Regions from separate parts of the Homo sapiens genome. Here region 2 is linked to region 1. Evidence: fine-mapped expression QTL. A gene starts in region 1. The other region holds a variant in brackets. All regions are shown on one strand. Distances are between the middles of the regions. Region 1 holds the start of HAUS2 (HAUS augmin like complex subunit 2). Region 2 overlaps ZNF106 (zinc finger protein 106).

What was found. PIP is the estimated chance that this variant, and not a neighbour inherited with it, causes the effect.
Region 2: its variant is the best candidate, but not a certain one, in a credible set for the expression of HAUS2 in whole blood (INTERVAL, PIP 0.57).

Annotation. Positions count from the first base shown.
Region 1 is chr15:42,545,802-42,551,180 of GRCh38, reverse strand. HAUS2 (HAUS augmin like complex subunit 2) reads right to left here and starts at 2,343. Exons shown (of 6, transcript NM_018097.3): 1 at 2,216-2,343. The coding sequence starts at 2,308. LRRC57 (leucine rich repeat containing 57) reads left to right here and starts at 2,388. Exons shown (of 6, transcript NM_153260.3): 1 at 2,388-2,488; 2 at 2,725-2,830; 3 at 2,937-3,075; 4 at 3,652-3,920. The coding sequence starts at 2,747. RefSeq lists an enhancer at 2,083-2,552.
Region 2 is chr15:42,455,081-42,460,459 of GRCh38, reverse strand. ZNF106 (zinc finger protein 106) reads left to right here. Exons shown (of 22, transcript NM_001366845.3): 4 at 3,302-3,502. Among named protein-coding and RNA genes, the nearest start is that of ZNF106, 33 kb to the left of the region's middle. RefSeq lists enhancers at 1,465-2,296, 2,297-3,129. The variant G/A (reference allele first, on the strand shown) is at 3,182.

The DNA of each region.
Region 1 (5,379 bases):
CCCCGTCTCTACTGAAAATATGAAAATTAGCAGGTGTGATGGCAGGTGCCTGTAGTCCCAGCTACTCGGGAGCACGAGAATTGATTGAACCCAGGTGGCAGAGGGTACAGTGAGCCAAGATCACACCACTGCACTCCAGCCTGGGCAACAGAGGGAGACTATGTCTCAGAAAAAAAAAAAAAAGAAAAGAAAAGAAAAAGAAAATACAGGAGAGGGCCGGGTGCAGTGGCTCACGCCTGTAATCCCAGCACTTTGGGAGGCAGAGGCAGGCAGATCACGAGGTCAGGAGATCGAGACCATCCTGGCTAACATGGTGAAACCCCATTTCTACTAAAAATACAAAAATTAGCCGGGTGAGGTGGTGAGCACCTGTAGTCCCAGCTACTCATGAGGCTGAGGCAGGAGAATGGCATGAACCCAGGAGGTGGAGCTTGCAGTGAGCCAAGACTGTGCCACTGCACTCCAGCCTGGGCAACAGAGCGAGACTCCGTCTCAAAAAAAAAAGAAAACACAGGAGAGAAGGGAGGAAGGATTACACTGTAGAGTGCTGTGGTCACTCCTGGTAAAGTTAGTCAACTAGGACCACCTGAATCTCCCCATCACCCAGACAATGGGTGTTCAACAAAAGCTTAAAATCTTTTAATACAGTATCACAGCCTCTTATAACAGTTCATCTTGAGAGGGGATACAATGTGTCAAAAGGGAGAGTACTAAGATCTAATTCTCCTTTAACAGTCTAGTGACCATGGGCAAGTTTCTTGGTCTAAGCCTTAGTTTCTTAAATTAAAAAATACTGTAAGGTATTAGAGTCTCTAATGGCTCTTCTGACTATAAAAAGTTATGTATTTTCCGTAAATCTTCCATCATGTTTGTAGTGCTTTTTTTTTTTTTTTTTTCCCTGAGACAGGGTCTCACTCTGTCGCCCAGGCTAAGTGCAGTGGCCCGATCGCATCTCACTGCAACCTCCATCTCTTAAGCTCAAGCCATCTTCCCATCTGAGCCTCCAGGACCCATGTGGTCCGCGGAGTAGTTGGGACTACAGGTGTACGCCACCATGCCGGCTAATATGTGCTGATTTTTACAGATCAGTTTAACTTTTCTGTTTTCTTTTTAGTGAAATTTCTCAACTTCCTCTATATATCAAAATTTATTTCCCCATTTTTCTCAATGCCCTTGATCCCACTTGCCCCATGCCCTCCTGTCACTGCATTCCATTATTTCCTCACATGTTCAATTTCTCCCTCTGTTGGCTCCTTCCTCCGACATGCTCCTCTTGCCCAACCTAAAACTGCCACTCCGTGACTCCTTGGGTTAATGTCTCTTTTCTCTCCTTCTCAAAATTAATCTCTTCCTCCATTCACGTTCCAAGGTCTTATCTTTTTAGCCAATACTTTTTTTTTTTTTTTTTTTTTTTTGCCTTTAAAGATGCCAAGGCCGGGCGCGGTGGCTCACGCCTGTAATCCCAGCACTTTGGGAGGCCGAGGCGGGTGGATCACGAGGTCAGGAGATCGGGACCATCCTGGCTTACAAGGTGAAACCCCGTCTCTACTAAACATACAAAAAAAAATTAGCTGGGTGTGGTGGTGGGCGCCTGTAGTCCCAGCTACTCCAGAGGCTGAGGCAGGAGAATCGCTTGAACCAGGAAGGCGGAGGTTGCAGTGAGCCGAGACCACGCCACTGCACTCCAGCCTGGGCGTTAGAGCGAGACTCTGTCTCATATAAATAAATAAATAAATAATAAAATAAAATAAAAATGTCAAAAAAGAGCTTCTGGCGCTCTTCTCTACCCAGCACCTCCCGCCCCAAATACGATTCAACACTTCCCACAAACGAGGGTTGTTGGAAATGCTTGTTCCGCAAGGGGACAGAACGACCCGTATTTCCCATCCCCGCCCTTACACTACAGTCTAGAGGCAGTATCACTGGATGAAAAAAAGGCTGGTAACAGTCTAATCTCCCACAAACTGGACTGGGACAAATTTACCCTACAGACACTCAAAACACAGTCTACCCTAAACACCATCTACTCAGATCCCCGCTTTCCAAGCATCCACGGCAGAACGTTCGCGGCTGTTGCCTGGAAGGGGCTCTTATTACTCTAGTACAGACCCCAACCAGGACCCTCACCACTCCCACAGCCAGCAGCACCAACTCACAGCCATATTGTTGCCACCTTGGGCACCCCCTTGATGACACCACCGCCACCCCCACGTACCTGATTGACCATCCCCGAAGCTATGAAGTGGCCTAGCACTAGCCCAGCGCCGTTAGGCGCGGACGCCGGGTCCCACGGGTTGGCAGCGGCCATGGCTCGGACGCACCTTCCGCGAAGGCGCCAAGAGTGAGCGGGATCGCAGGGCGAACGCACGGCGCGGCTCGATGACGTCACAGGGCGTTCCCGCCCGGGACTAAGCCGGGGAGCGCATCCCGGCTACTGCGGGTCCTGGGTCTTCACCTGCGGAGCCTTACGGCAGCTGAGCGGTGGGAGGCGAGTCCGGGGCTCCCTGATCTTCCGTAGGCTCCCAGAGGCGCCTGGCCTCCGCAGAGCTGCAAAGGCGGCAGGGCTTGGTGGTCGGGCTGTGTGTTCTTCCGTTTCTTCCTTGTCGCTCTTGGGTCGGGCCCCAGGAGCCAGGGATCGGCGGGAGTTGAGAGCTGGGGCAGGAGCCCCAGCCGGGAGGCCGACCGGGTGGACTGGGCGGTGACAGCAGCGCTTCCTTCCCGCAGGGACCTGAGCCGCGGCGCTAGGATGGGAAACAGTGCGCTCCGCGCTCATGTGGAAACGGCGCAGAAAACTGGTGTCTTTCAGCTTAAGGACCGAGGGCTGACCGAGGTGAGACTGGGAGGGACACGACCAGGGAACTTAAAGGGAGAGGGACGGCGGGGGCGGCGAACTTAGTCGGTGCGGGATTCCCCACGCTGTGAACTCCTTTCTCCAGTTCCCCGCAGACTTGCAGAAGCTGACGAGCAATCTCAGGACCATCGACTTGTCCAACAACAAGATCGAAAGCCTACCGCCTTTGCTGATAGGAAAGTTCACTCTGCTGAAGAGCCTCTCCCTGAACAACAACAAACTGAGTATGGCTCTCGCCAGGGAGGCTTTTGCTAGTGATCAGCTGTTACCAGGGGTGGTTTTCTCTTACAAGCTGATTTTTGTTTTTGTTATGAAACCGTGCAGGAGGGCTCAAGTTGCGAATGCCGGAATCCTTGAAGCCTTCTTTCTACTTCTTGTAATTACATCTAAAATAAGCCTTATAATGATTGGGTGTTATAATGATTGTTACTGGGTTAATTTGGACTTGAAAGAGAAGAACATTTTGGGGATGTAATGTAAACAAAGCTACCTAACTTGGAATGGGGGATGGATGAGAAGGGGAGGATCTTCCAAATATCACAAAATTGCTGTCGGATTGTGCCTTGGGCCCCTTTACAAAAGGAGCCCATTATACACACAAATGCTCTCCGGCATTTTGATGGCACCCTCACCTTCTAAAGACTATGTTGGTAAAATGCAATATCTAAAAATGGCACATGTGGGAGTTTTACATATATTAACAAGAGGCGAAGCAGGCTGCCATATAGTCTTTATAAACTTCATCAAAGTTGTTTTCAGCTCTATCACATTCAGGTTTTAAAAAAATTTTTCTTTGCCAGCTGTTCTGCCTGATGAGATATGCAATCTGAAAAAACTAGAGACGCTAAGCCTAAACAACAATCACCTTAGAGAGCTGCCGTCTACCTTTGGGCAACTCTCTGCCCTCAAGACCCTGAGCCTCTCTGGGAACCAACTGGGAGCATTACCTCCCCAACTTTGTAGCCTACGGCACCTGGATGTGATGGATCTCTCTAAGAACCAGATTCGAAGTATACCTGACTCAGTGGGAGAGCTGCAAGTCATCGAACTCAACCTCAACCAGAATCAGGTCTAGAGCTTTAAGGTTTTTTTTCCTACAGCATATGTGTGGCTTTAAGGTCTCCTGATACCTGTTAACCTCTTGTTTCCTAAACTGCCATCATAGAGCTAAGTATCAGAGGCTAAATGAGAGGTTTCTTCTATAGGCTGAACTAATTTCAAGGCCCAAAGTGCCATGGAATTAGTTGAGACACTGGATGTGTTAGTTGTGTAGGTGTTTTGGGGAGGGTGGGGTAGGTAACAGGGAGAGATCATTTCAAAAGTTAAACTACTGTCTCACAAATCTTGAAGACTTCTTCAGATCCTCCTCAAATATATGCCCCTAACCAGCTAGCCAGGAGCTATGTCAGGGATATAATGTGGAAATGAGGCCTAAACTGAGGTTCTCAGAGTCGGGAGTCAGAGGTAATTCAGTTTTGTTTTTCGTTTTGTGTGGGGTTTTGACATCTTTGTTACAAAGTGTGTCTCCTTTTGCTGAAGAATATTAAGTGATAGGCTTTCTGGAGATAGCCCATTTCACTGTTGTACAGCTTTAATTATAATATTTGAAATTTGTTTCCATTACTTTGGAAGCTTTCAATTAATATTTGTCTGGAAAACCAATCCAAAGATTCTTGTCTAGGCATGAAGGCACAAGTGATGAAATATTAAACACTGTGAGACTGGATGGCCTTTAGTTTTCTAGTGTCTGTATTTCTAGATCTGCATGGTCCATTAAAGTGGCCAGAAGCTGCATGTGGTTATTACTTTTCTAGATTGTAGTGATTTTACATCATGATGAAATTCAGTCTGTCTTTGAGGAATTGGCCTCATGTTTTTTTACCTTAAGTGGATATTCTTGTATGTTATAGAGCTTCTTGGGGGAAAAAAAAAACTGAATCAATTAAGCAGCAAGTATTAGTTGAGGATTTGCTCCACATTCACCTCTGCCAGTACCTTTATTCAGTGGTTCTCTAAGTTTAGTATGCATCAGAATTAACCAGAAAAGCTTGTTTAAAGAGATCACTAGCCCCCTACCCTCAGTGTTTCTGATCCAGTAGGGCTGGGATGAGGTCTGAGAACTTGCATTGCTAGTTATTGAACTTATTAAAGTTCCCATGATTTCTAATAAGTGATGGTCTGAGATGATACTGGGCAGAATCAAATAATTTGGTGACTTTTAGTATTTAAATGGCAAAAGGGGTGAGTCAAAGACAATTGCTTGGTATTGAGCTTGAGGGCCTAAAGGAACAGTAGTGCTATTGAGAATGGACATGCTGAGTTGTCTGTGGTGAATCTTGTAAATGGAAATATCTTACTGAAAGTTGGAAACGTGGGAGCAGAATAGAGGTAAGAGTATAGATACAGATCTTGAGGTCATAACAAAAGTGATGGACTTTAATGAATGAGCTTTCTAGAAGAAGTTTAGAGAGAAGATGACATATGAAGTATTACAGACAGCTACTTGAAAAATGCCCATAAAAACAAGA
Region 2 (5,379 bases), 91 kb after region 1:
AAAATGTTCCACTGTTAAGAATCCAACATATGTTTGTGCTTTGGGGGTTGCAGGGTGTGTGGGTTTACGATTATGGATGTTTATTTTTAACAGTTAAGTTCTGCCTACTTTATACGACATTCCTTAATATTTTGGAAAGTCAGTATTGCTTTCTAGTTGTGTCTTTTAAGAGCGAGGGGTTTTGATAGTTTGAGCATTAGACAGATTCTCTGCATTTTAGAAGTAAGGATAAAATCATGGATTTTATTTTAAAATACTTTTTAGGGATTATACTAAAGTCCCCAATAGAAAGATGTCTCTGGTACTGCAATATTCAGTTTAGCATTCTATGAGCTTTTAGGTAGAAAAGTAGGCTAAGATATTTTCCATAGTTTTAGAGAGTTTTAAGACAAAAATATTTTCTTTTTTTTTTTTTTTGAGGCCAAGTCTCACTCTGTCACCCAGGCTGGAGTGCAGTGGAGTGATCTTGGCTCACTGCAACCTCCACCTCCCAGGTTCAAGCGATTCTCCTGCCTCAGCCTCCTGAGTAGCTGGGATTACAGGCGTGTGCCACCATGCCTGGCTAATTTTTGTATTTTTTTTTAGTAGAGATGGGGTTTCACCGTATTGGCCAGCCTGGTCTCGAACTCCTGACCTCGTGATCCACCCACCTCGGCCTCCCAAAGTGCTGGGATTACAGGCTTGAACCACTGCGCCTGGCCAACAAAAAGATTTTCTAACTGGAAAATTGAGTTGATTGGAATGTTTATAGTGTAAATGAGATATTGTAGATTTGTTATAGTCCTCAGACTGTTCTGATGCTGCCCATTGTGATAGATTTATATAATTAACTTCTTTGTGTGTTGCTTTGAGAAACAGCTTGTTATTAACGTTCAGTTGGAATGAGCTACCATCAATTTAATTGCTTGAGAGAAAAGTATCGGTATCCCTGGTAAACTGGAGAAAGTTGAGGATTATTCTTTTTTCTTTTTTTCTTTTCTTTTTGAGACGGAGTCTCACTCTGTTGCCCAGGCTGGAGTGCAGTGGTGCGATCTCAGCTTACTACAACCTCTGCCTCCTGGGTTCAAGCGATTCTCCTGCCTCAGCCTCTTGAGTAGCTGGGATTACAGGTGCCCGCCACCATGCCCGTCTAATTTTTGTATTTTTAGTAGAGACGGGGTTTTACCAGTTTGGCCCGGGTGGTCTCAAACTCCTGACCTCAGGTGATCCATCCGCCTCGGCCTCCCAAAGTGCTGGAATTACAGGTGTGAGCCACCACGCCTGGCCGAAGATTATTCTTTAAGTGTATAAATGTAGTAAGTGCAGTTGAAAACCCTCAGTAAAAATAATGTATTTAAGTACCTGTGGAATTAGAATATTGATATTCTGGGTAATCAGGTATTGATATTTTTAGGAAACCTGGTCAGAGCACATTAAAATGAATCTTAAAAATGTCAGTATTTGAGGTTACAAAGTCAAAAAAGAGTGAAAACTTGCAAATTTTCTCAGTTTTTCTGAGCTCTTCTCCATGATCCTTACAAAATAAGGAACAGTGTTGTTTTTTTAAACTTACTGGGCATTGTTTGAGTGTTTAAACTTTGTCACCCTAAACAAGAGTGTCTATGCTAAGTATTTACTAGAAGACAGTTTCTGTTACAGGTCACCTGAATATTCATTTAAAAAAAAAAAGAAAACACCTTACCAAAAAACAGCACACCTAGAATTTAGCTGTTTTTTGGTAAGGTGTTGTTTTTTTTTTTCTTTTGTTTTTTTGAGATGGAGTCTGGCTCTATCACCCAGGCTGGAGTGCAGTGGTGTAATCTCGGCTCATTGCAACCTTTGCCTCCTGGGTTCAAGCGATTCTCCTGCCTCAGCCTCCCGAATAGCTGGGAATACAGGTGCACACCACCACACCAGGCTAATTTTTGTATTTTTAGTAGTGATAGGGTTTCACAATTTTGGTCAGGCTGGTCTCAAACTGCTGACCTCATGATCTGCCCGCCTTGGCCTCCCCAAGTGCTGGGATTACAGGCGTGAGCCCCACCAAGCCCGGCCTTTTTTTTTTTTTTTTCCTTGAATGAATATTCAGGTGATCTGTAACAGTAACTGTCCTCTAGTAAATGAAGTGCCCAGTTTTGAGGGTCTCTTCTGGTTGATGTAAATTCTGCCTATGTCTAGTTAGGTATTTGTGAGGGAAAGATGGAACAGAGGTGCACGTGTGTGTATGTGTTCTGTCTGGACAAAGACGGCATGTCCTTTTGGGTTGTTGGTTTTTTTTTTAATAGATTGGCATAGGAAGTGCAAAAATATAACTAGTCTAAATCCAGGACACATGATACAGAGTTAAGCCAATTTGGATTGTTGAATGGATACTGCTGTCTTGTAACTATGGTGTTCAGATGTTTCTCATAAATGACTGCATAGTCAGCTGACCCAGTCAAGGGATTTCCAGAAGCTAAAAAGCAGTTAAATTACTGATCTGCTACAGCTGTGGACACTGATTCAAGACTGGCTTCTGAAGACTGGCTAAGTGAGATTTGCATGAAGTATGTAAAGTAAAAAAACAAAACAAAGCAAAAAAGTCTGCCTAGTTTAACTAAAAACCTGGTTTTGCATCTCTCTCAACTGTAGCATTTTCTGAAACTTGAGAAAACACATTTGCTTGGCACAGCTGTTAACTTCCTACAACTGAAATGCTTTCCATTCCCTTTAAAATAAGCCCTTCTGAAGCAGAATGTAGATCACATGTATCATCCAGACCAAAAAAGTTTGCCTGGACTACTCCTGGGGTCCGGAATCCTCACATTCCAGGCAGAGCTCCAGCTGTTCCGATTTAGTTACCGACTTGGGATTGGCTGCGCCACCTACTCTTGTTTCCACCCCTTAACTTTCACTGGAAGAAAGCTCTAGACTAAAGATTAAATGTAAGCGCTGTCACCAGGCCTTCTGAGTGCAGCTGGCACCATGGGTGTGCTCCAGAGCAACTTCTGCTTGCTCTGAGCCCCCTGCCCTGCCTCCCCTTTCACCATGTTTCCTCTGACAAGATTTTAAGTACAGCAATTCAAGAAGATTTCTCCTCCTAAACGACATTTATCTGAAGTCTATTGCCTCTTGATTGCTGGAAAAGAATCTTAAAATCATTTCAAAAGTAACTTATAAACAAACTTATTAAAAGTGATGAAAGGAGCATTGAAATTAATTA[G/A]CACTAATTTTTCACTGTGCCAAAGTGTGCAGTGTCCTTCAGAGGAAACAATAACAGATCTGGTGAGTGTGCCATGCCAGTGGGGAGAATTGAATGTCCCTCATCTCCCTCTTTCCCTAGGGACATTAGTCATGAGTGCCGAGTGTGCGGGGTCACAGAAGTGGGTCTTTCTGCATATGCAAAGCACATTTCTGGCCAGTTGCACAAAGATAACGTTGATGCCCAGGAAAGAGAAGATGATGGAAAAGGAGAGGAAGAGGAAGAAGATTATTTTGACAAGGAACTCATTCAGTTAATAAAACAAAGGAAAGAACAAAGTCGGTAAGTAATTGATTTTTTAAAAAAAGCCTATCTATAACAGAACACAGCAGAGAATATATTTTATATCTTTGTACTGGTCAGCCCATGGCATTTAAACTTAGGTATAAAGTTTAGCTTGAGGTTGTTGTCTTACTAATCAAAGGGCAATGGAATGTTTTCTTGAACTACTGTAATATCTTCTTAAAAAAGCAAACTTAGTATTGTTCCTACATAAGCTGTAGCTACATATCTGAAATTTTTGCCATGTTGGTAACTATGTTGAGAATGGCTTTATTGGTATCCAAATCTTTTTTTTTTTTTTTAAGATGGAGTCTCACTCTGTCACCCACCCAGACTGGAGTGCAGTGGTGTGATCTTGGCTCACTGTAACCTCTGCCTTCTGGGTTCAAGCAATTCTCCTGCCTCAGCCTCCTGAGTAGCTGGGATTACAGATGCCTGCCACCATGCCTGGCTAATTTTTTTTGCATTTTTAGTAGAGACGAGGTTTAACCCCATTAGCCAGGCTGGTCTCAAACTCCTGACCTCAAGCAATCTGCCCACCTCAGCCTCCCAAAGTGCTGGAATTACAGGCGTGAGCCACCGTACCTGTCCAGTATCCAAATCTTTTGAATACCAATAAGTTTTTATTTGGCGTTTAAATTTTCCAGTGGAAAGGTGTTAGAATATAAGCTTCATTGTATAAATCGTATAGTATATAGTATAGTCGTATCGCCAAAATAACAGTGTAGTCTATAGTATATAGTATAGTCTTACTGCCAAATAACATTTCTTAGGAAAATATTTTTTGACTGGTGTGAATTAACGTGTTGCTTCTGCCAAATTTGATTTATCTTTTTGTCTTTGAATCCCCAGTGACTACCACAGTGCTTTCTTGAATAAATTTTTTTTGATAAGTGTCAAGATAATTTAAGCAATATAAATTTTCTAATTTGTACTGCATAATTTCATACCTACATTTATACATTCAGGTATTAGGCATTTATGTTTTTACCTTACTGCTTTCTGGTCTAAAGAGTTTAATTATAAAATTTGTTAAAAAGAGTTTAATTAATGAGGTAGAAATTTTCAATGTGAGGGAAAGAGAGAGAGAAGCACTTATGAGGTGGGATAATTTTTTAAGTCCCAGAACATGAAGAGAATCATTTCAGATTCTAAAATAAAAATTTAAAGATTCTTCTTTGAATACTAGTTATACCCCGTCTGTACCTCCTTTTTAGTCAGAGGCTTAACTATAAAAAGGAAGTTGTTTTTACTCTATATGTTAAAAGTTTTTTTGCCGGGAGGAACGGTGGCTCAGGCCTATTGTCCTGGTGCATGAGGAGACGAGGCCAGGGCTTTAAGACCAGCCTGGGCAACATAGGAAGCCCTTATCTATGTAATAACAACAACAAAAAATTAAAATTAAAAAAAAGTTTTTTGAACAATTCCTTGAAGGAGACTTTCTTCATCTTAAAATATCAGTAAAGGGTGAGCATCCCTAATCCAAAGTCTGAAAATGCACCAAAATCCAAAACATTTGAGTGCCAACATGAGGCCACCAGTGGAAAATTCCACACCTCATTTCATTTTACAAAATTATTCAAAATATTACCTAAAATTATCATCAGACTGTGTATAAAAGGTGTATATGAAACATAAATGAATTTTATGTTTAGACTTGGGTCCCATTCCCGTAATATCCCATTATGTATATGCAAAAATATTCCAAAATCCAAAGCAGTTTGAAATGCAAAACCTTTCTGGTCCCAAGCATTTCAGATACGGGACACTCAAACCACATGGTTCTTAAATCATTTAGTAGCTTAGTCCTTCAAATGACATTTTCATTACTTTTAATATAGTTGCAGTTTACTTTATCCTGCTTTAGGCAGTTGGAG